Linked DNA regions of Homo sapiens: regions 2, 3 and 4 are each linked to region 1. The links come from fine-mapping of genetic effects on gene expression. A gene starts in region 1. Each other region holds a variant in brackets. All regions are shown on one strand. Distances are between the middles of the regions.

Region 1 (5,415 bases):
CAGGAAAAGATTCCTAGAGGTGGGAGGTCAATTCTAGATGGGGTGAGAAAGAACACACTTCGAAGAGGAAGGTGACCGAGAGAATGATCACAGCGCACTTAGGAAACTTTGTGTCATCTGAGGTTTGTCTCAGGAATTTTTTTTTTTTGAGATATGTGATGATTTTGATCAAAAGGACAAACAGATATTTTAAGTTACAAAGCTTGTGTTTAAAAGCAGAGAAAATAGGACAGCTTATAACTGCTGAAGCACTGTAATTTTAACTCAGGACAAAAGTACAATGGATTATTGCCTAAGAGTTAAATGGTAATTTGATCTTCAAATGTAAACTCCAATTGTCCTTCTAGCTAAGAATCTTCGCACCAGGGCACTGGGAGGCAAATTCAGTAATACCACATAAAACTGACATGTTTTAAAAAAGCCTAAATTGTGTTAGACCTATCACCAGAGAGATGCATTAATTCTCATGATTTCAGCTAGTGGGGCCCTACTTGGCTGAACATTATTGGAATAAAGCCTACAGTCAGGTGTCAATGTCTTTGTCAGTCTCTCACTGACAGTTCTACAGATAACGACGAAAACAATGCAAATCAACCACAAAGGGAAATGGTTCCTCTGGTGGAAAAACACAAGATGCAAGGAAACAGATGTTAGTGAACTCAAATCACAGGCAAACAAAATCACAGAGAAGTCAGCCTCTGGGAGAGCTCAGCTTCTGAATAAGCAAAGGTACCACAGGGAAGGGTACTTCAGAAAAGAATGATTTGAATATCAAAGGATTCAAGAGAACCTGGAAAAATTAAAGATGCTCTCAACCATTCCGGCAGCGTTTTGCAAGAAACAACTGTCTTTCTGAGAGTGAGAGGCTGATGTGGAGGCTGCCGGGTGGCACCGTTACTCAGTAGTGACAAAAGATACATGAAGACAACTTGATTCATTCTTTAAGAAGATATGTATGTAGTTGCATTTATGATCTGTATGTTCAATATTTATCTTACACATTTTAATTTTATTTTTCAATATAAAATCTTAACCTCTTCCTCCCTCTATTAATTTGCAAAATTCTGGTTCCCATTTTAAGTAGTCTTTTTCTGGTCACTTTTCCTGAATTAACTCTGACTTTCCTCAAGTTCCAGTTCCACGTTCCAAGCTCATTGAAGCCCTGTTACTGCAAGCTCAACTAGTCCAACTCTAGGGTTGAAATCTTCTAATGCAAACTCTAATACCACCCTCCAAATTCTCCAGGTCTAAGACGGGTACCACCAATCCCCATTGACCTGGATTACCTGGTTCTCAGCTTTGATTCCCACATCCGGTGTTGACAATCTTCTATCATTCTCCAAGCCAGTCGATTCTTCCTCAGATATCCCTCATATCTAAGATGACCACAGCAGGCACCACTACCTCAAGACAGATCTCTTGGCGACTCACCCACCTTCTGCCTTCACTGTGCACGCCACACTTTACAAGCAACTCTTTGTAAAACACGGCCTTCAAAATATGATCAGCTAAGAACCTTCTGGAAGGCCATGGATCAACACCAAGTTTCCTGTGTGGCACCTGAAACCTTTTATCCATCAACTGGTCCACCTTATCTCACCAACCTATCCTCTCATCAGTCCCAGATACCATCTCTCAGCTCCAGTGCAGCAGGTCTCTCTCTTCTCTCCCACACAAGCTGTCTCCATGCCTGCCTCAGGCATTTACTAACAGCACTTCCTCCGAGCCACCACCGTGTCCTCCTCTCAAGACTACACTTCTTTCAAGGCACAAGTCAACATGTTTCTTTGTCAAGATTTAACCTGTTACACATCCTGATGTTTTCTTACAATTGGAATCGTCTCTTTATTCATGAGTAGTCTATTTTAAATAAACATGCTGAGTAAATACGTAGAGAATATAAATCCTTAGATAAATGTTCATTTTTGTCTCCTTCCTAGACTATATCCTCAAGGGCCTCAGTCACACATTTCCTATTAGAGGTAGAAGAATATAAGCCATAGATTCAACATGCAACAACTACAAGACCTCTGTTAAGGTAAACAGAGAAATAAACGATTCAACTACACGAATTAGTGTTCCATTTTATAATTCTACTATGTCAAACAGAATTAACAAACCTGATACAAAAACATCAAATATATGGTAACACAAATAATATAACTCTTTTAGGCCTCTCTAAAGCTGGATAATTTGGTATTTTCATCACAAAAAGGAGACAACAAAGACTGCAATGCGAAATTAGCCTGGGCTTTGAGTGTCTAATTTAGAATTCTTCCATTACCTCTAGTTTACCTTCTAGCCTGAAAGTTCCTGAATCATAAAGGATCTCTTTAGTTTCCTTCGTGATAAGTGTTCTCTGAAAACGCTCTGCACTAGGGTTCATCTAACTGGGGTCTGAAGCACCCTAAGGGTTCTGGGACACATTCTAGACCATGAGAGAATTGTTCCTTTAAAAGGGGTCCGCGCATTACTCAAGTTCAGAAACAATGCTGTGCATCATCACTTTACTGCCCAATAAGCTCCATTTTTCCAAGAAGAAATCTAACATGAAATCTGGCAAAAGCAAAGCAAAGCGAAAACGACAAGACGAGCGAATGTCATCATTTAAAGCGGCAGGCAGGGCCGGCTGGGTCCCGGGTGCAGCATCCCTGCTGCCCGGTCAAGCTCCGCCCATTCGAGGGGGGGATCCCGAGCGGTCACCCGAGGCGCGCGACCGCCAGGTGTCCCCTGCCAGGGGCTGGGGGAGCGCGCCGGCCGCCAGGGCTCACAGGGGTTGGTCCCGGGGCGCTCGGATGTGGCCGCGCGGCAGGGGAGGCGGGAACCGGTCCGCGGGGCTAAGCAGGCGGCTGTGGGGGCCTGGGGCAGAGAGGCTCGTCCGCGGCCCGCTCGCCGCGCCGCCGGCCCCCGCACTCCAACCCACTCGCCGGCCCCTTCGGCCGCCCGCCCTCCCCTCACCCACGCTCGGAAGGCAACCTCACCTGCTTGGCCGGCCGGGGACCCCGGGAGCGGGGGACCACCAGTGGGCAGCATCACGGCCAGCCGGCTTCCTGGAGGCCGCGCTCCTTTCCTGGAGCCGCACCCCCGCCCGGCCCCCGCCGGCAACACGTCACCGCCTGCGCCCGGAGCGCGCCCGCTGGCGGCGGGAGCGCGCACGCCGAGGGGCGCGTTGAGCGCTGGGGGGCGGAGCCTGATGCGGGATGATTGGCGTCCGAGCGCTGGGCTGTTCCGTGGACCCGCGCGGCCACGCCAGTGTGCTGTGCACGGGAAATGTGGACGTGGGAGCACGGAGGCACCCAGTACTGTGGCGTGGTGCTCGTCTGGTCGTCAGCGAGCCTCAGCGTACTTAGGACACCGCAGTTTATCTTTCCTTAGCGCTCCTAACGGTTATGGAAAATAGCGCTTGAAAACCTGGTAAGGACTAGGCATTGTTGCTCAACTCTTGACATTTACACCTTTGCCGGTAACTCTCCCTGTTTCACAGATGGGGAAACGGAGGCTCACACTTATTCAGTCTCTCTTGAGATCCACCTGATTCGTGAGAGGTAGAGCCAGGATTTCATTCTTGCCCGTCGATGGCATATGTTAGTGCCTATGTTGGGGGAGGCAGACTGCCCCAGCCCTCCCCAACACACGCAATGGTTATGAGAAGAAATAAAGCGAAGGGTGTTCCTGAGATTGACCCCATGACCTACACTTAGTACAAGGCTAAGCTCTCTTAGCTCTCTGGCTTAGCAATAAACTGCTTTGAAGACACAGAACTTTGCACTTGAGAGCCGGAAGAGACCTTGGGAATCCCGGGTTCCATCCTTTCTTCCACCTTGTATACAGGTGAATGCACTGTGGCCCAGAGATAGGAAGTGACCAGCAATCCAGCCACTTTAAAAGATTTTTAAAAACAAGAGCCCTAGAAACGTCTACTCCATTCCATTTATCAAGTAAAACAAGCATAGACAGAACTGGCAGTTCTACATCTTAACACAGAATCCTTCTTGGTCCAGCACCCGCCTGGGTCACCTCCTCTTCCTGGATTCAGCTACTGTTAACGGAAGAAACCATGAAGCCTCAGAAGGTTAGAGCCAAAGGGACTCTACTGTGTAGCCCCAATCACCTTCTTTTACAGTTAAGAGCCTGGAACCCAGAGAGGTTGAGTGACTTGGCCAAGACCCCCTGGAGGCAGAGGAGAGCAGAACCAATGTTTCAGACTCCCACATGACTTGCGCATCAGTGTCTTTTTTTTGACAATCTGTTGCTATAAGAAATTACTCGTTTGGATAATTTTCACACTAGAAAACCCTGTGACCCAAGGCTAGCATTGAGAAGCTAAAGCTGGCCACTGACATACTGTGATTTTAAGGACAGTCTCCTTCGAAATTATCTGCCTTTCAAAATCTTTGCCATTGGAGACACTGGTTGGGGTTATGTTAGTCTTCCTTAAGGAGGGCTCTACTAAAATGCCAGACTAGGCCGGGCATGGTGGCTCATGCCTGTAATCCCAGCACTTTGGGAGTCCAAGGCAGGTGGATTGCCTGAAATTAGGAGTTCAAGACCAGCCTGACCAACATGGTGAAACCCCATCTCTATTAAAAATACAAACACTAGCTGGACATAGTGGCTTTTTTGTGCCTGTAATCCCAGCTACTCAGGAGGCTGAGACAGGAGAATTGCTTGAACCCGGGAGGTGGAGGTTGCAGTGAGCCGAGATCACGCCAATGGACTCCAGCCTGAGCAACAGAGTGAGACTCCATCTCAGAGAGAGAGAGAAGAAAAGCCAGACTAGTAAGTATTATCACACCATCCATATTTCCTGATAATTTATATGTAATAATTGTCTGATAAGAGCTAGGAAAGAAAAATATAGGAAAGTATGGAAACGTGTAACTTGGCATATTACATTCTAGAGCTGCAGTGACAAATTGCCCTAAACTGGGTGGCTTAAAGCAAGATAATTTATTGTCTTCCAGTTCTAGATGGTAGAAGCCTGAAATGAAGGTGTCAGCAGGGCTGTGCTCTCTCTAAAGATCTAGAGGAGGATCCTTCTTTGCCTCTTCCTAGCTTCTGGTGGCTACTGGCCATCCTTGGCCTTCCTCAGCTTGTAGATGCATCACTTTGGTCTCTGCCCCTGTTGTCACATGGTATTATCTCTGTGTGTCTGTGTCTCTGTCTCCAAGTTTCTTTCTTCTCATAAAGACACCAGCCATATTAGATTCAAGGCTCACCCTCATCCAGTGTGATCTTATGATCTCATATTAACTTGATTATATTTGCAAAGATCCTATTTCCAAATAAGGTCACATTCATGGGTTCTGGGTGGACATGAATTTTTTGGGGGTGGTCACTATTCAACTTAGTACATGAGAGGACCATCCTGGTCTGGTTCATCAGGGAGAGCTTCTTTGAGGTAACGCTGTCTGA
Region 2 (5,415 bases), 110 kb before region 1:
AGGATGCCACGGGGCACCCTTGAACTTGGCGCCTGGCCCGGCCCAGGGGCTCTGTGCAGGCTGCCTGCAGGGACACCAGCTTGCCTGGCCATGCCTGGCCAAGGAAAGGCCACCACCAGGGCGGACACTTTTAACTCTTTTAGGCAGGGCGGATACCCTCAAAGCCACCCCTTTGGTGCAGTCCTCTTACTTGTACACTTTGGTATTGTATGTCCTCTCCCCAGGGAAGCCAAACATGCCGCAGACCACGCGGGAATTCTTGGCCGTCCAGTGCTTGTCACAGATCTGCTTCCAGGTCTTGCCCTCCTTCACCTCCACGTAGCCCTCCATCACTGGGGTGCGCTTGCGGTAGGTTGAGAGGATGGCTCGAATCCGAATGTCCTCCACCTGGATATTCAGGTTCTGGGAAGAAAGAGGCGTGGAAGGAGAGGGTTACCCTACTGGCCTGGCTGCAGAGACACCAGGCAACCAGTACTTCTTTAGCGACTATGGGCCAGGCCTGCCGCGGGCCTGCCTGTGCCCTCAGGCCCTGCAGTGAGCTCTGGGCAACCCCGAGGGGCACACGGCCCAAGCTGCAGTTAGAAAGCGCTATGCATGGGAGATAGTGAGGCTGAAAGGACCCAACAGGGAGTGGGGTGACCTGGAACAGTCAGAAAAGACTCAGAGACCCCATGGGCTTCTCCTACATCCGAACCTAAGATCTTGGAGAGCAAAGGGCAGCAGCCTCCTCCTGCACAGGCCTCGAAATAAATGCACAGGAGAGAAAGTGTTCTTTGAATGCGGATTTTGCATTTCACTCCAAAGTATGTGTGTATGTGCCTGTGAGTGTGTCTGTGTGTGTCTCCCTGATTCATCTTTCAGTAAAACTTGAGTTTCAGATAGAGGACCCCCAGATGTCCTGAAGCTGGTGGTGCCACCCTGCAGACTACCTCATACCCCAGGGGTGGGCATTCCTCTCTTCAAAAATCCTTAGAGAGGCCTGAGAGAAGAAGCAGGGCTTAGAGAGAAACGAAGCAGATATTCCTGGTGTTGAGCGTGCTGTGTGCAGAGACTCACACCTGCCTGGCAGGGATCAGGGAGGTAGGGTTGGGGACAACTATTTGGCTGCAGCAAGGAAAGGAGACACAGCAAGGAAAGGAGACACTTTGAGCCCCTTAGAGGGTTCCCTTCCCACACCCACCCCACCCATCTATCTGTGGAGTAAAGGACAGAGGCTGGGGTCAGGGTTGGAAAGATTCATTGGCAGGGCCCTTTGGGAGGAAGTGGAGGAGGGCTGGAGGGGCATGGGCGAGAGGAAGGCGCCTGCCTCCCTGCCACGTGGGTGTTCCCCCTCCCTCGACGTGGAGCTGAAATATCCCTGTACCACCTAGACCTGAGTCCCAGGGATCGGGCAGGAGAGGGGGCCTCAAGAGGCCAAGCTGAATGAGAGGAGAAGAGGTTCCCTGGAGTTACAGTGGCACTTTTTAATGCCTTTCCAAGACATGCCATAACAGGCTCCAAACTCTATGGAAGCTCCCCCCTAAATCACTCATGGCCAGCCATCACCAGCTCTTGCGACAGTCCCTGACTGAGTTCCTGCCTCCGTCTGTCTGCCACAGGGCCAGCCACCAAAGAGCCTCTTTTTTCTTTTTCTTTTTTTTTTTTTTTTGAGACGGAGTCTCGCTCTGTCGCCCAGGCTGGAGTACAGTGGCGCGATCTCGGCTCACTGCAAGCTCCGCCTCCCGGGTTCACGCCATTCTCCTGCCTCAGCCTCCCAAGTAGCTGGGACTACAGGCGCACGCCACCACACCCGGCCAATTGTTTGTATTTTTAGTAGAGACAGGGTTTCACCATGTTAGCCAGGATGGTCTCGATTTCCTGACCTCATGATCAGCCCGCCTTGGCCTCACAAAGTGCTGGGATTACAGGCATGAGCCACCGTGCCCGGCCTTTTTTTTCTTTTAATTAATTAATTTTTATTCTTTTTTGAGGCAGGGTCTCACTCTGTTGCCCAGGCTGGAGTGCAGTGGTGTGATCAGGGCTCACTGCAGTCTCCATATCCTGGGCTCAACCGATCCTCCTGTTTCAGTCTCCCAAGTAGTTGGAAGTAGAGGTGTACATCACCACGCCCAGCTAATTTTAAAATATATTTCAGAGACGAGGTCTCACTATGTTGCCTAAGCTGGTTTCGAACTCCTGGCCTCAAGGCATCCTCCCACCTCAGCCTCCCAAAGTGCTGGAATTACAGGTATGAGGCACTGCAGCTGGCTCTTTCTAAAACACAGATCTAACCTTGTCCCTTGACTAGCTCCTCTTTGTCTATGTAATACCCTAATATTGAGCAAGATGCTCTCGGCCATTCAGGACTGATTCCACTTATGCCTCCAGCCCCCTCACTGTCCCCAGCTTCACATGGATCCACAAACACCATGAATTGCAGTATATAATAGCAACAGCTACCGCAAAGCATGCACCAGGTACCCAGCCCTATGTCAAGTGTCTTCCTTGCATTCTCCTACTTAACCCTCGCACGCTGTAATGAGGTGGTTGATAGCTACTGCCATCCCCACCTTACAGATGAGAATACCAGCTGACTCCAGTTCCCTCCCTAGGGCCACCCCGAGGTGCAGTGGAAGACACACACACTGTGGGCGGGCCAGGGACTGGGAGGTGGGGCTGGTCCAAGCCGGGCTGGAAGGCAGGAGGAACCCAGCACCCCGACTGCCCCAGCCCTGTCCAACTGAGATGCAAATGAACCACGAGTTTGAACAGAACCATTCTTTGGGTGCCCAGGGATTCACGTCTCCTC[G/A]CCATGGGCTTCAGGGTCCACAGCCAGGCCCTACTCTCAGGTCCTGCAAGGCGGTGGAAAGTATGTGGGCCTGGAGTGATGGCACTTGGCTCCGTTTCCTTTCCACCACAGCAGAAGGAATGCTGCCAGGGGCAGGATTATGCCTTCCAGCCTGGATCCTGGATCCTTTACAGCCCTCATTCAGGCCGCAGGACCCGTGCCACCAAGACACGTGGACAGGGGTGAGCCAAGAAAGGGCCTGAGGTCTAAACCCAGCCCACAAGCCGGCCCTCTTCTGTCTCTTCCCACCTCGGGAGGCTGGGCTGGAATTCCAGTGTGTAACTGTCATGCCCAGAAGGAAAGTTACTGCCTAGCATCAAGACTGCACTTCACAGGGCAGGCGGCCCGGGCTGACCTTCAGTTCACAGATCCTTTCCCCTGCGTTGGGCAGCAGTGCAGGCTCGCTGCAGGGAAGGTGTGACCCCCAGCACCTGGCCACCACAGGAGGAGGAAGAAGGCCTGGCTGGAGGAGCTCAGCAGACCCCGCTGGAAAGAGCTACGCGGGCCTGAGGCCAGCACACACCAACCCAAACGCCAAGGGAGCTTGCTCTCGTTCCTGCGATGATGCGGGACAGTTTCCTCCGCTGAATAGGGCTGGTGGGGAGAGCCCCGGGGGCTCCACGATGAAGGCAATGCAGCCTGGAGAAGAGAAAGGGCTAGCACCGGGGGTCATTATCCTCATTCTTCCACCGACTCACTGCATACGTGTTTATGCATCTCTGTGTATGTGCATGGTGGTGTGTGCTTGATGGTCTGTGTGTGTGTGGTGTGTATCTCTGTGTCTGTGTGTGTGCATGGTGGTGTGTGCTTGATGGTCTGTGTGTGGTGTGTATCTCTGTGTCTCTGTGTGTGCACGGGGGTATATGCATGATGGTGTGTTTCTGAGTGTCTGCATGTCCATGTGTCATATGAGCCCCTGTATATGTCTCTGTGTGTGTGTCTCTGGGATTGTGTGTCTCTGGGATTGTGTGTCTGTGTGCATGATGATGTATGCATGACAGGGTTGTGTGTGTGTGCCGGTGTGTCATGTGGATCTCTGTGCACTCTCCCTGTATGTGTCTATGTCACATGGGTCTCTGTATGTATAAAGTGTGCATCTGTTTATGTGTCTTGTGGTGGAGGAAATTCTGAAAGGATCGTGTTCCTTGCAAGGCCTTAGGAAAACAGTCAGGACACCATTCGCACTCATTCCTTCAAACTGGACCGTCTTCTCTTCTTCTCCCTCCAAAGAACCAAAGCCTTTCCAGTCTTTAAGGCTCAAATCTACCGTATGCATTCATTTAACAAAATGCAGTCTCTGCCCTCCTTGGGCCTTGCTGGGCTTCCTCCTTACACCCCAACCACAGCGCCCTGTGTCAGCTTTGAATAATGACAGCTATGGGCATCATTTATCAAACACCAATTAATTGCAGGCTAGGTTCCATACAGAAAACTTTACATCCACTCCATTATTCAATCCCCATGGCAGCTTTCAAGATGGCTCATGGTCCACCTGTTTAGAGGTAAAAACATGATAAATCTTGGCAAGCTTTTGGAAGTTATCCAAGTTCACACAGCCAGTAAGTAGGTAAACAAGTATGCAAATTGAGTTCTGACCCCCAAACCCGTGCTCCAGGCTCATAATGACCACTGGTCTCTGAGCAGTCCTCATCTCATGCCTGTGTCCAATACATTGCCTGGTACTGAGGGTGACTCACCCAGGGCAGGGCCTGGAGCTCAGAATTCTGGGTGTCCCCTTCAACCAGCTGAAGGGTGCTGGTGCTGTGCACATTGGAAGCCCAGCACCCCATGTCGAGGGGCAGTGAGTCAGACTGGATTGTGTACGTGAGGGGAGAGCTGGGCTCCCAGCATTCTTGTCTTCAGGCCAGCGGGAGGAGGCAGGGAAGCCCTCTGGGGCACACATTCGGTGCTCACACTAGCTAACCAGCTCATGGAGACTGAGTTAGACCTCTTAGAAAACACGCCCACACACATAACCTCTCTCTTTACTTCACTGCTGTGGAATCCCTTCCATAACCACAAGTGTTAGGATACATTTTGCCCCAGGAGTTCAGCCCCAAAAGTGAAAAGAAAGTGTGAAATATTAAAATATACACACACTTTTTTTTCTTTTTTAAATGAAAGGCAGTCTAGACTTGCTAGTTTAAAATTCAGCCCCAGCCGGGCTCAGTGGCTCACGCCTGTAATCCCAGCACTTTGGGAGGCCGAGGCAGGCGGATCACGAGGTCAGGAGATTGGGACCATCCTGGCTAACACGGTGAAACCCTGTCTCTACTAAAAATACAAAAAATTAGCCAGGCATGGTGGCGGGCGCCTGTAGTCCCAGCTACTCGGGAGGCTGAGGCAGGATAATGGTGTGAACCTGGGAGGCGGAGGTTGCAGTGAGCTCAGACCACACTACTGCACTCTAGCCTGGGCGACAGAGCGAGACTCCGTCTCAAAAATAAAATAAAATAATAAAATAAAATAAAATAAAATAAAATAAAATTAAAATAAAATAAAATAAAATAAAATAAATAAAATAAAATAAAAAATAAAATAAAATAAATAAAATAATAAAATAAAATAAAATAAAATAAATAAAATAA
Region 3 (5,415 bases), 35 kb before region 1:
TGAAGTCATCAGGGCAGGTCCCTATCCAATATGACAGGTGTCCTTATAAGAAGAGGAAAATGCCACGTGAAGACCGAGGCAGAGATAAAAGTGACACAGCTGCAGGCCAAGGACCATTGAGGATCGCTGGTCACCGCCAGAAACCAGGAAGGGGCAAGGAAGGATTCTGCAAGGTCTCAGAGGGAGCGTCGCCCTGCGGACTCCTCAACTTGACTTCCAGCCTGCACAACTGTGTCTGTGCTTTTCCACATTGTAGGCCCTGCCTTCGTGCTGTTAATTCTGCCCACCGCGTTTTCCTGTACGGTCCCCTCTGAAAGCTCCACAGCCTTTCCTATTGAGCTCAAGTGTCCCCTGCTCTTGGTAAGTATATTCGCCTCCTAGGGCCCTCATGACAAAGCACCACAAACTGGGTGGCCTCAATAGCAGACACTTATGCTCTCACAGTTGTGCCCCTAACACAGGAGAAGCTAGATACCTCTGGTGTTTCAGCTTAACGCTTACAGCTAATTGCAGTCATTCAGGTTTTACAGCTCACAGCCTCAGATCCTATTAACTTTGTCTGTGATTCAGCTTATGTTGTAAATGTAGCCAGTCGCATAGAAACTGCCACAATTAAAAGTACACTAGACCCAGAACTGCTTAATTAGTTAATTAATTAATTTATTTTTGAGATGGAGTTTTGCTCTGTTGCCTAGGATATAGTGCAGTGGCACAATCTCAGCTCACTGCAAGCTCCGCCTCCCGGGTTCACGCAATTCTTCTGCCTCAACCTCCCGAGTAGCTGGGACTACAGGCGCCCGCCACCACGCCCGGCTAATTTTTTGTATTTTTAGTACAGAAGGGGTTTCACCATGTTAGCCAGGATGGTCTCGATCTCCTGACCTCATGATCCACCTGCCTCGGCCTCCCAAAGTGCTGGGATTACAGGTGTGAGCCACCATGCCCAGCCGCTTAATTTATTTTTAAGACTTCAACAAGTTATTCGTTCTCATGCAGCTCCTTTTCATATTTCTCATATTTGCTCTCACACACAACTTCCTGGACCCCTATCTCTAGGTAATGAGAAAGCAGACAAACTGATTGGTTCTGTGTTTCGGCAAGCTCAAGCATCTCATGCACTTCTGCACCAAAATACTTCCACCCTTACTCGCATGTTCCATTTATCTCATAGCCAAGCTAGGGCTATAATACAAGCCTGTCCTACTTGCCAGCATGTCCCTGGAACTATACCTGTAGAAGGCTGTAACCCACGAAGTTTGGCTCCAAATGAAATTTGGCAAATGGATGTTGCACACATAGCAACCTTTGGTAAGCTTAGCTACGTTCATGTGACTATAGACACTTATTCTCATATGCTGCATGCTACATGCCAAACAGGTGAGACAGCTGGTCATGTATGGCCACATTGTCTGTCATCATTTGCTCACATGGGGATACCTAAACAATTAAAAACTGACAATGGACCCACTTATACTAGTCATGCTTTTCAAAATTTCTTACAGCTTTGGGCTATAACCCATAAAACAGGAATTCCTTATAATCCTAGAGGACAAGGCATTATAGAGCAGGCACATCAAACATTACAACGCATATTGAAAAAACAAAAAGGGGGTATAGGAGACCAACTACCACCTCAATCAAAACTACATTTAGCCTTACTTTAAATTTTCTGACTCCTGGTATGGAAGGTAAAGACTCCAGCAGAAAGACATTGGCAAGTGTTAGAGGAAAAGAGGAAAGTTTATCCGAAAGTGTTACGGAAATCCCCGGAAGAAGGCCAATGGAAAGGTCCAGTGGATTTACTAATGTGGGGAAGAGGGTATACTTGTGTTTTTGCAGGAGATGGATGAACTGTGTGGGTGCCCTCAAGGTGCGTGCGACCATGGAATGGGAGACTGGAGGAACCCAGGGTGGCCAACCATGGACCCGGTCCCGGTATGAGCCATGAGTCAGCTGAGCCTGAATGCAAAGACGGAGAGAAGGCCGACCGGAGTCACAACACAGTTCTAAGGTTACATTTGTAAAGAATATCATCACTCAATTTACAGTTTGTGTTTTTAATCCTTATGTCTTTTTGGCAGCTAAGAAGGACCAGCTCCAGGTAAACAATACCCAATTGACCTGTAAATCTTGCCAGTTATATCACTGCACTAATCATAGCACATTGCAAACACATAATATCTCTACTGTGATGATTTTAGGTGGTATCCCTGGGCTAGGGATTCCTGTTAATCTGTCTGAGCCTTGGGCTGCCACACCTGCTTTGCATTTTGTGAAACTTCTAACTCAGCTGACTCATCGTGCCCGTAGAGCCTTAGGCATGATAATTTTTGCTACTGTTTACTTGGTCATGCTAGTAACTTCTGTTGTGATATCTTCTGTAGCTTTGCATAATTCTATTCAAATAGCTCAGTACGTGGAGAACTGGACGCGCACAGCTGACCAAGCGTGGCGACTTCAGAATAAAATTAACACTGAGCTACAAACTGAAGTGGCAATGCTGAAATCCACGGTTCTGTGGTTAGGGGCACAAGTACAAAGCTTGCAGTTGCAGCAGTAATTGCGCTGTCATTTTAATCACACTCATATTTGTGTAACCAACTTAGAATACAACCAAAGTGAGTATCCGTGGGACCTTGTGAAAGCCCATTTGCAGGGAGCGTTCACATCCAACATCACCTTTGATATTGGTGAATTACAAAACAAAATTCTTGATTTAAATAGGCAAACTCAAGAATTTCAGCCTTCTTTAGAAGACGGGACCAAATTCCAGCAAGGCCTGGAGAGCCTCAACCCTTGGACCTATCTAAGGCACCACATTAACATCTTATATGTAGTTCTTGGAATAATGTTGTTTCGTCTCTGTCTTCTGTTTATAGTCTGTAAAATCGGATGGACTGCCAATCGGAGAATGAGAGCTGCCCAGCCTGGCCTTACATTTTTTCAATTAATTCATAAACAGAAAGGGGGATATGCAGGGAGCCGAAGGCCCATGGGATGTGACCAACGCAGCATTCCACTGGAGGCTATATGATCCAACAGCAAACTGTTTATCATGAATGCAGGATGTGAGAAAACTGACGACTGCTCCTGCCGACAGAAGGTTTGCTGGAGGCAATCACTCCCTGGCGCTGAGGTTATCTACTGCAACATTTAGCCTGTTGTTCGAGGAATGCAGTCTTGCAAGCCT[G/A]CTCTAGACTGAGCAGCTGACCCCTTCTTCCACCCCGCTTCTCACTATCTCTTTTGCCTAATAAATAAGGAGGGCTGTATAAAGCTCAGGGCCCTTGTCCACTAGGGGCAAGGTACCCCCTGACCCCTTCTTCAAAATATACTCTTTTGTCTCTTGTCTTTTATTCCCGTGTTTGCCCCGCTTTGTTCAGTCCCCCTAGGTCCGTGCAGGTTACAGTGGAATCCGTATTCACGTGCATATTCTGGCTCATTTCATACTACAGAAGCAGTGAGGTGAGTTTTGGACAGAAGTCATGTGGCCTGCAAAGTTAAAATGTTTATTATCTGGCCCTTTAGAGAAAAAAATTGCTGCCTGGTCTGAAGCGGCATTTTTCAAATGTGAGCATGCATTATGAGTGACCTGGAAGGCTGGCAAAATGAAGAATTTGATTCAAGAGGTCTGAGACCAAGCCTGAGATCCAGCACTTCCGTCAGGCTTCAGTGATGTTGATGCTGCTGATTCAAGGACCACACTTTGAGAAGCAAGTACCGAGAGCAGCTCCGTCTGACGGAAATATACTGTGAGCCACACAGGCAATTTAGAGTTGTCTAGTGTACACATTAAAAAGGTAGAAGGAAACAGGTGATGTTAATCCAATAATATTTTATTTAACTCAATATACCTAAAATATTGTCATGTCTCATGTACCCAATGTAAAGAAACTGAGATATTTCATATTTTTTTTACATGAAGTCTTTGAAATCTGGTGTGTCTATATCTATATATAGACAGACAGATATAGATATATATTTTTTTGAGACAGAGTCTCACTCTGTTGCCAGGCTGCAGTGCAGTGGGGAGATCTCAGCTTACTGCAACCTCTGCCTCCCGGGTTCAAGCGATTCTCCTGCCTCAGCCTCCCGAGTAGCTGGGACTACAGGCGCCCACCACCATGCCTGGCTAATTTTTGTATTTTTAGTACAGACGGGGTTTCACCATATTTGCCAGGATGGTCTCAATCTCCTGACCTCGTGATCCGCCCGCCTTGGCCTCCCAAAGTGCTGGGATTACAGGCATGAGCCACTGTGCCCGGCCTGAAATCTGGTGTATATTTTATACTTACAGCTCATCTCAGTTTAGATTGGCCTGTTTCATGTGGCTAGTGGCCGTCATACTGGACAGTGCAGCTCTAGAGTACAGAATGGAGCCAGGCTGCCTGCGTTCAAATCCCAGCCCCACCACTGGCTAGTTCGGTACCTTGGGCAAGTTGTGTGCCTTTTCCACATCTGTTTCTCCACCTGTAAAGTGACGGTAATCAAAGCACCTCCTCATGGTGTCATTTTGGGGACTGACATGGTTAGGCTTTGTGTCCCCACCCAAATCTCATCTTGAATTATAATCCCCACAATCCCCACATGTCAAGGGGGAGACCAGGTGGGGGTAATTGAATCATGAGAGTGGTTTCCCCTGTGCTGTTCTCGTGATAGTGTTCTCAGGAGATCTGATGGTTTTATAAGTGTTTGGTAGTTCCTTCTGCATTAATTCTCTCTCCTGCCACCTGCCAAGGTGTCTTGGTTCCCCCTCTTCACCTTCCGCCGTGATTGTAAGTTTCCTGACGCCTCCCCAGCCATGCTGATCTGTGAGTCAATTAAACCTCTTTCCTTTATCAATTACCCCGTCTTGGGAAGTTCTTTATAGCAGTGTGAAAACGAACTAATACAGGGATTATGTAAGCTAACAAAGAGCTAGAACAGTGCCTGGCGTGTAATAAGCTATCTTTCTGTTATGATGACGGTTCTGCACAAGAAGCACCTTCTTTCCCTCTAATAAAGCAAGGAGGTGGTGCCATCTTTCCTGCCCCCATCCCTGGGGCCAGACTGTGGAGTTTAGCATGCTCTCTCAGTTCTCAGCCTGGTCATTCCCCCTCGCTTTAAGGATCCTGCCTTGTTCATTCATTCCACAGATATTTATTGAATGTCTACCGCCTATCAGATCCTGTGCCTGGGGATACAACATGAAAACACACAGACAAAAGCCCCCTGCCCCCTGGCTCATGTTCTAGTAGGGTAATAGGGAGAGTCGTACATAGAACGTAATGAAAACAGAGTGTACTAGATCTAAGGTCATAAGCATCATGGGGGAAAGTGAAGCAGGGTGAGGGGGATGGAAAGTCCTGAGAGGGCCCTGAGGCCAGGGTGGCTGGAGCGGAGTCTCGGAGAAATGAGGACTGCGGTCAGAGAGGTGTG
Region 4 (5,415 bases), 23 kb before region 1:
AACTTCTCAACTAAATAAATAGGTGAAAAAACACCAATCTCACATATGCCAATCCAATTGTCCTTTTTAGATTTTGGCTTAAATTGTCGAATTTTTTCCTTCAAAATGTGAATTTATTTCCTGTATTGGATGCAGACTCTTCCCTTCTGGATTTACAGTGGTGCTGCCAGCAACAGCCTCAGTCAATGCGGTTAGGAAGAGGACTCGGCAGGCTGTGCATGGGGTCTCCCAGTACGATTAAAAGCTGAGATGACTTTTAATTAAGGGGGGTGGGGGAAACACCAATTGGAAGCTGGAAGAAACTGAGGCACGATTAAGCAGAAACACTGAGGAATACTGAGCAAGAAGTGGGCATGTGCTCTAGTTCCAATAAAACCGAAACTGGTGAAACTAGGAATTTCCAATTCTTTCAAAACCACAGTGTTCTAATGCCACTGAAATATGGAATAAGGAGCGTAATTACCTGCGGTCAGGAAAAGATAACAGTAACGAGGATTTTTCTAAATAAAATGTACCAGTAAATTCTGAAGTGTGTGTTTTTAAAGAACCAGCATTGCCTCCCCTCACGCTGGTTTCTTGGGATTTTTCACACACTCGCACAAAGCTGTAGTCGATAGTTCACTATCACTTTTATAAATGGTTATCTCCTGGTGCCCATGTTTCTCTGTTTTGGATATAAATGGTTTAAAAAATTTAAATTTGCAAAGAAAACATATACAGTAACAGACCTGAACAATAAATAAAAAAAAAAATCACCCTCTTCAGGTTAGAGCTTTCAAGATAGAGAAAAAAGAGGATTATCATTTCAGGCAGTAAGTTTTTTGGTTCTATGAAAGCATCACTATTCAGTCCCCTCTCCACTGACAGAATGCATCTTTCCACCTCCCTCCAGTATCAAAGTGCATGTGTTTAAATTTAACATTCCTTAGAGAAACCCCAGAAATCTCATTTATTTTTGGCAGATATCCTGTGCAGCAAAAATCAAGTGAATTTCCCTCTTCCCCACTCCTCAATTTAATGCTGTACTCAAAATGGCTAAACGCAATACTTCTAGACAGCAGGGCTTATAAACAATGCATTTTTTTTTTTTGAGACGGAGTCTCACTCTGTCGCCCAGGCTGGAGTGCAGTGGTGTGATCTCGGCTCACTGCAAGCTCTGCCTCCCAGGTTCATGCCATTCTCCTGCCTCAGCCTCCTGAGTAGCTGGGACTACGGGCGCCCGCCACCACACCCAGCTAATTTTTTGTATTTTTAGTAGAGACGGGGTTTCACCGTGTTAGCCAGGATGGTCTCGATCTCCTGACCTCATGATCCGCCCGCCTCGGCCTCCCAAAGTGCTGGGATTACAGGCGTGAGCCACCGCGCTCGGCCTGCATTTTGTTTTTGTTTGGAGGAACAAAAAAGGGAAAGAAAAAACAAAACCACAGGAAAATAAAGAGGAGAAACCCTGAGGCAAAAATGGCTTTTCCTTTTGAGTCTTCGTGGAGCTGTGAGCTGGATCACAAGGTCCCCGGGGCATTCTGGGCGGGAAGGCCCTCCTCCATCCAGAGGGCGGCGGCCGAGCTGCTCCGGGGAGTGCGCCTGTGGATGCGCCGCAGCCGCAGCAGGTACAGCAGGATGGCCAGCAGCACCACCAGGAAGCAGCCAGAGAACAGGTAGTGGTTGTAGACAAAGGAAACGCCCCGCCAGTGGGTGTGACTGGCTCGGAAGGCCTCCTGCTGGATGTCTCTGCCCATGTGAACACCAAACAACAAACAGGACAGTAAGCAAGGAAAGGGGTGGAAAGGGTGCACAGGGGGACGGCGGGACCCAGGCCCCAGAGCTGCACTTTAGGAACTGCAACCCTACCTCTGAAATGGAGAACGGAACAGCCCAATGCAGGGGGCTTCTAAGTATCAGTGAGATAACATGTGAAAGTATACTCTGAAGTCGGTCATTATAATTTGGGCAACCAAAATCAGAGGAATTTAGAAGAGCCGTGAAGGTTTCGCTGATACAAAGAAGTCAACATGTAAACAAACTGCATGCTTGTGATCAGTAACACCCATGACTCACCATTTTTACAGTTAACCCAGTTAAAAGGGTTGCTGAGAAATGCTCAATTAAATGGAGGGGGTGGGGGGAAGAGCAAATGTCTCATCTATCAGGTAACTCAGGTTCTTAGCACAGGTCAACTGACAGCAGATCTGCAAACGTGAATGGGGAAAAACGCACATCTTTGTTCTACCCAAGCGCTGACTGAGATGTAGCATTTCTTTGACCATGAATGCAGACAACAAACTATCATTAGCGTTGGCAGCACCTGCAACTTTGTTACTAACGAAAATCACAGATCTTTCATGTCCCATTATGGTATCATCAATGCCTCAAAATATCATTGACGCTCATTGACTACACTGAAATTACAGAAAGTGCTAATTCTGCTGCCAGATCCTGTTATTTAATGTGTTAATAGAGAAGAACACATATTACAGTATCACAAACTTGTTTTCTGTAATATTTTGGTATTATTTCAATATGATGGTTTCTTCTGTAATCCTATGTATTTATACATGCATTTAAACAGTATTTGGAGAAGAGGCCTGAGTCATAAAGGTTAAGAACCCCGGAACTGACCCTTTTGCCGGGGCTGGGGAACAGACAGTTGAGAATAACCAAACACAGGGCAGTAGGACAGGAGTGCTGTGTATTACGGGATGGTAGGGTGAGAAGGGAGGAAGCACTTGTGGGGAGGGGGCAAGACCAAAAGCAAACGTCACTGTCCCTACAATTCTGCCGTGGCCGGCTCTAACAGCAATGCCCCAAACAGCCACAGACCACAGCTGCCATGAGGTGCTGTAACTGCAGAAAAGCATCTTTTTGATTCTCGTTCCCAAATTCACAGCCCTACCTTAATGGTAGAAAGCGGGTCCTGTAGAGGATGGCTCCAAGGGTCCACTGAACCTCCTTGTCGTAAACTTGCAAGGCAGTCTTTAAGCTTTTATAGTTGACAGGAAACGAAAAGCCCCTATGAAACACCTCAAACATCCAGGCCGATTTGAAGCACTGATACCTACAAACGGCAAGCACAAAGGCAAGTCAGACTGACTCACTCTGTCAAGATG[G/GCA]CACACACACACACACACACACAATCCTTCCCTCTGTGGGCAGCCTTGGGGCAGGGGCTTCCTCAGGCCGGCTCTCCCAAACCAACTGCGCGCGTTTCAAGGTTGATGTACTTGCTTCACATCCCTGGTCCCACAACATGGAGCAGTTCACCTGTCAAATCAATCAGTGCATGAACCCGGTCTCGGCATAATGTCATATATCCCTGAGATAGGTTTCTTTTCCAGCTGGCATTTCACCATGTACTCCTTGAATGAATACTGAACAGGTTCCAACCTCTTTGTACCTCAGTTTATTATAAAATGAGATGGTAGGAAGGTTCTCTTCAGCTCTGATATTCTATGACTCTAAATATTTATTAGAGGTTTATTTTTTGCCAAGCACTGTGCTAAGCAAGTAATAAGATACAATAATTAGTAAGATACAGTGTCTGCACTTAAGTGACTTACAATGAAAGGGGATTTTTAAAAAGCAACAGAAAAAGCAGAACATGATAAATGCATTGGCGAGGTAGGATGAATTCTTGAGACTCAGAGAAAGGGATGAAGTCTGATTGAGGGGACAGAGGAAGACTGGAAAGGGACAGCCTCTGGCTGGACTCTGATGTCTGGGCAGGACTTGAACAAGCAAAGGTATGAACAGGGGAATTTCAGGGGTAAGAGACAGTAAAAGTGACCAAAACAAAAAAGATACGGAATATGTCTGGGCACAAGTATTTGTCCCGTTTGAAAGGGGCCCAGGGTAGATGGGAAGAACAGTGAGTGAGAAGAAGCTGGACTGAGGCCAGGGTGTGGCAAGCCAGTGGGGCCAACACTGCATTATGGTTCTTAAGAGTGCCCTGGGCTTGACCTTCTAGTACTTACTTAAGCCTGTGGAGGTCAGCATGAGAGGCGTACAGTCCTCGGTCAAAGCGTTCCCGCAAAATGGACCACTTTGTTGCACAATAATCCTGAAAACAAATTCACCAAAATAGATCACTAGTAAAGGCTTATTAAAATTCTCACTTTAAAAATGGTTTACCAAATTTATATTTGTAACAAGCATATCCTTCCCATTAGGAAACACACAAGCTTAACTTATACAACAAATGGCAAGACACACAAACACTCAGGGAATACTTACTGATTCGCAAACACAATGCCTTGCCTTAAAATTCTGTCCAGGGTATTGTTAAAGAGAGCTTTGCTGTCCACAACCAACCTCTCCAAAACTGTTTAGTTTCTCCCTCCATGACTGCATGGTACGGGCATACATTTTTGGAAAAGTGAAGCAGTATTTTAGCTACTTCAAACTAAGTCCTACATCTGTGGAGGACACAGTACAAGCTACTGGGATAATAACTGCAAAAGGTTTTTGTCTTTAACAGAAGGGAAAGAGATCCCACTTTTCTTGAAGTTATTTGTTATAATAACTTTTATTGAGCATTGTGTAAGTGTGTCTTCTCAATGTAATACTTAACTCCTCGAGGTGGCTACCATCCCGACCTCTATTTAAAGGATGAAGACACTGCTGAGAGGTGGGAGATGGGCCTGGGTGTGTGACAGGGAGCACAAGGAAAAAGCACTTGGCCTGGGGAACGGGCTCGGCATAGGCACTTCAGGAACATGGACATGGACACAGAGAAGTCGCGGAGAGCGTGAGGGAAGCCAGCTGTCTGACATGATTACAGCATACAGTGCTCTGCGCTTCGAGATGGGTTTGAGAAATACTTGGAAGATAAAATACCACACTTGTGACTGATTACACTGGGGTGTATAGGGAGAGATGAAATGGTTAGAGGGAGAAGTCCATGACTCCTAGGCTGCAGGGAAGGGGACTGGATGGTTGGCGATGCCATTAACCGAGAGAAGAACAGGAACAGAATGGAGAGAGGATGGTGGGTTTGTCTGGAGTTGTGGAATCTAGCAGGCAACCGGGCAGGGGTCAGGATTGGAGCCTCTTCTTGAGAGGCAGCAGCAAACCCTGAATATGGATGAGACCATCCAAGAACCTGAAGATCAGGGGCCAAGTGTGGAAGTCTGGCATCACCTAAGTTTAAGGGGTGTCAGGAAGGCAGAGAGAACACAAGAACAGGAGTATCCTGGCAGGTCAGGGAGGGGGAAGGCTAGTAGGAGAATTGTCACATGCAGCAAAGCACAAAAATGACATAAAAGACTGTAATTTGGAGCTAACTGATGACCAGGGTAGCTAATGGAGTGGTGCAGAAGTCAGCGTACAGTACATTTTTTACTTCTGCTGTGACTATTCAACCTCCCTCCAAGCAAAGGGAACAGGATCCCAACATGCTGCAGTGCAGCCTTCTATACTCCGTCT

What was found. PIP is the estimated chance that this variant, and not a neighbour inherited with it, causes the effect.
Region 2: its variant is fine-mapped to the expression of ENTPD4 in tibial nerve (GTEx, PIP 0.97).
Region 3: its variant is fine-mapped to the expression of ENTPD4 in whole blood (TOPMed, PIP above 0.99).
Region 4: its variant is fine-mapped to the expression of ENTPD4 in whole blood (INTERVAL, PIP above 0.99).

What each region holds. Positions count from the first base shown.
Region 1 is chr8:23,454,576-23,459,990 of GRCh38, forward strand. ENTPD4 (ectonucleoside triphosphate diphosphohydrolase 4) reads right to left here and starts at 3,072. Exons shown (of 13, transcript NM_004901.5): 1 at 2,982-3,072. ENTPD4-DT (ENTPD4 divergent transcript) reads left to right here and starts at 3,196. Exons shown (of 5, transcript NR_186533.1): 1 at 3,196-3,414; 2 at 4,639-4,779. RefSeq lists an enhancer at 239-740 and a silencer at 2,606-3,285.
Region 2 is chr8:23,340,802-23,346,216 of GRCh38, forward strand. It overlaps LOXL2 (lysyl oxidase like 2), which reads right to left. Exons shown (of 14, transcript NM_002318.3): 4 at 191-402. LOXL2-AS1 (LOXL2 antisense RNA 1) reads left to right here. Exons shown (of 3, transcript NR_038323.1): 2 at 225-348. Among named protein-coding and RNA genes, the nearest start is that of LOXL2-AS1, 7.3 kb to the left of the region's middle. The variant G/A (reference allele first, on the strand shown) is at 2,789.
Region 3 is chr8:23,419,144-23,424,558 of GRCh38, forward strand. No RefSeq gene overlaps it. Among named protein-coding and RNA genes, the nearest start is that of LOXL2, 18 kb to the left of the region's middle. RefSeq lists an enhancer at 3,079-3,579. The variant G/A (reference allele first, on the strand shown) is at 3,191.
Region 4 is chr8:23,431,427-23,436,841 of GRCh38, forward strand. ENTPD4 (ectonucleoside triphosphate diphosphohydrolase 4) reads right to left here. Exons shown (of 13, transcript NM_004901.5): 11 at 3,966-4,051; 12 at 2,891-3,052; 13 at 1-1,728. The coding sequence ends at 1,500. Among named protein-coding and RNA genes, the nearest start is that of ENTPD4, 24 kb to the right of the region's middle. The variant G/GCA (reference allele first, on the strand shown) is at 3,105.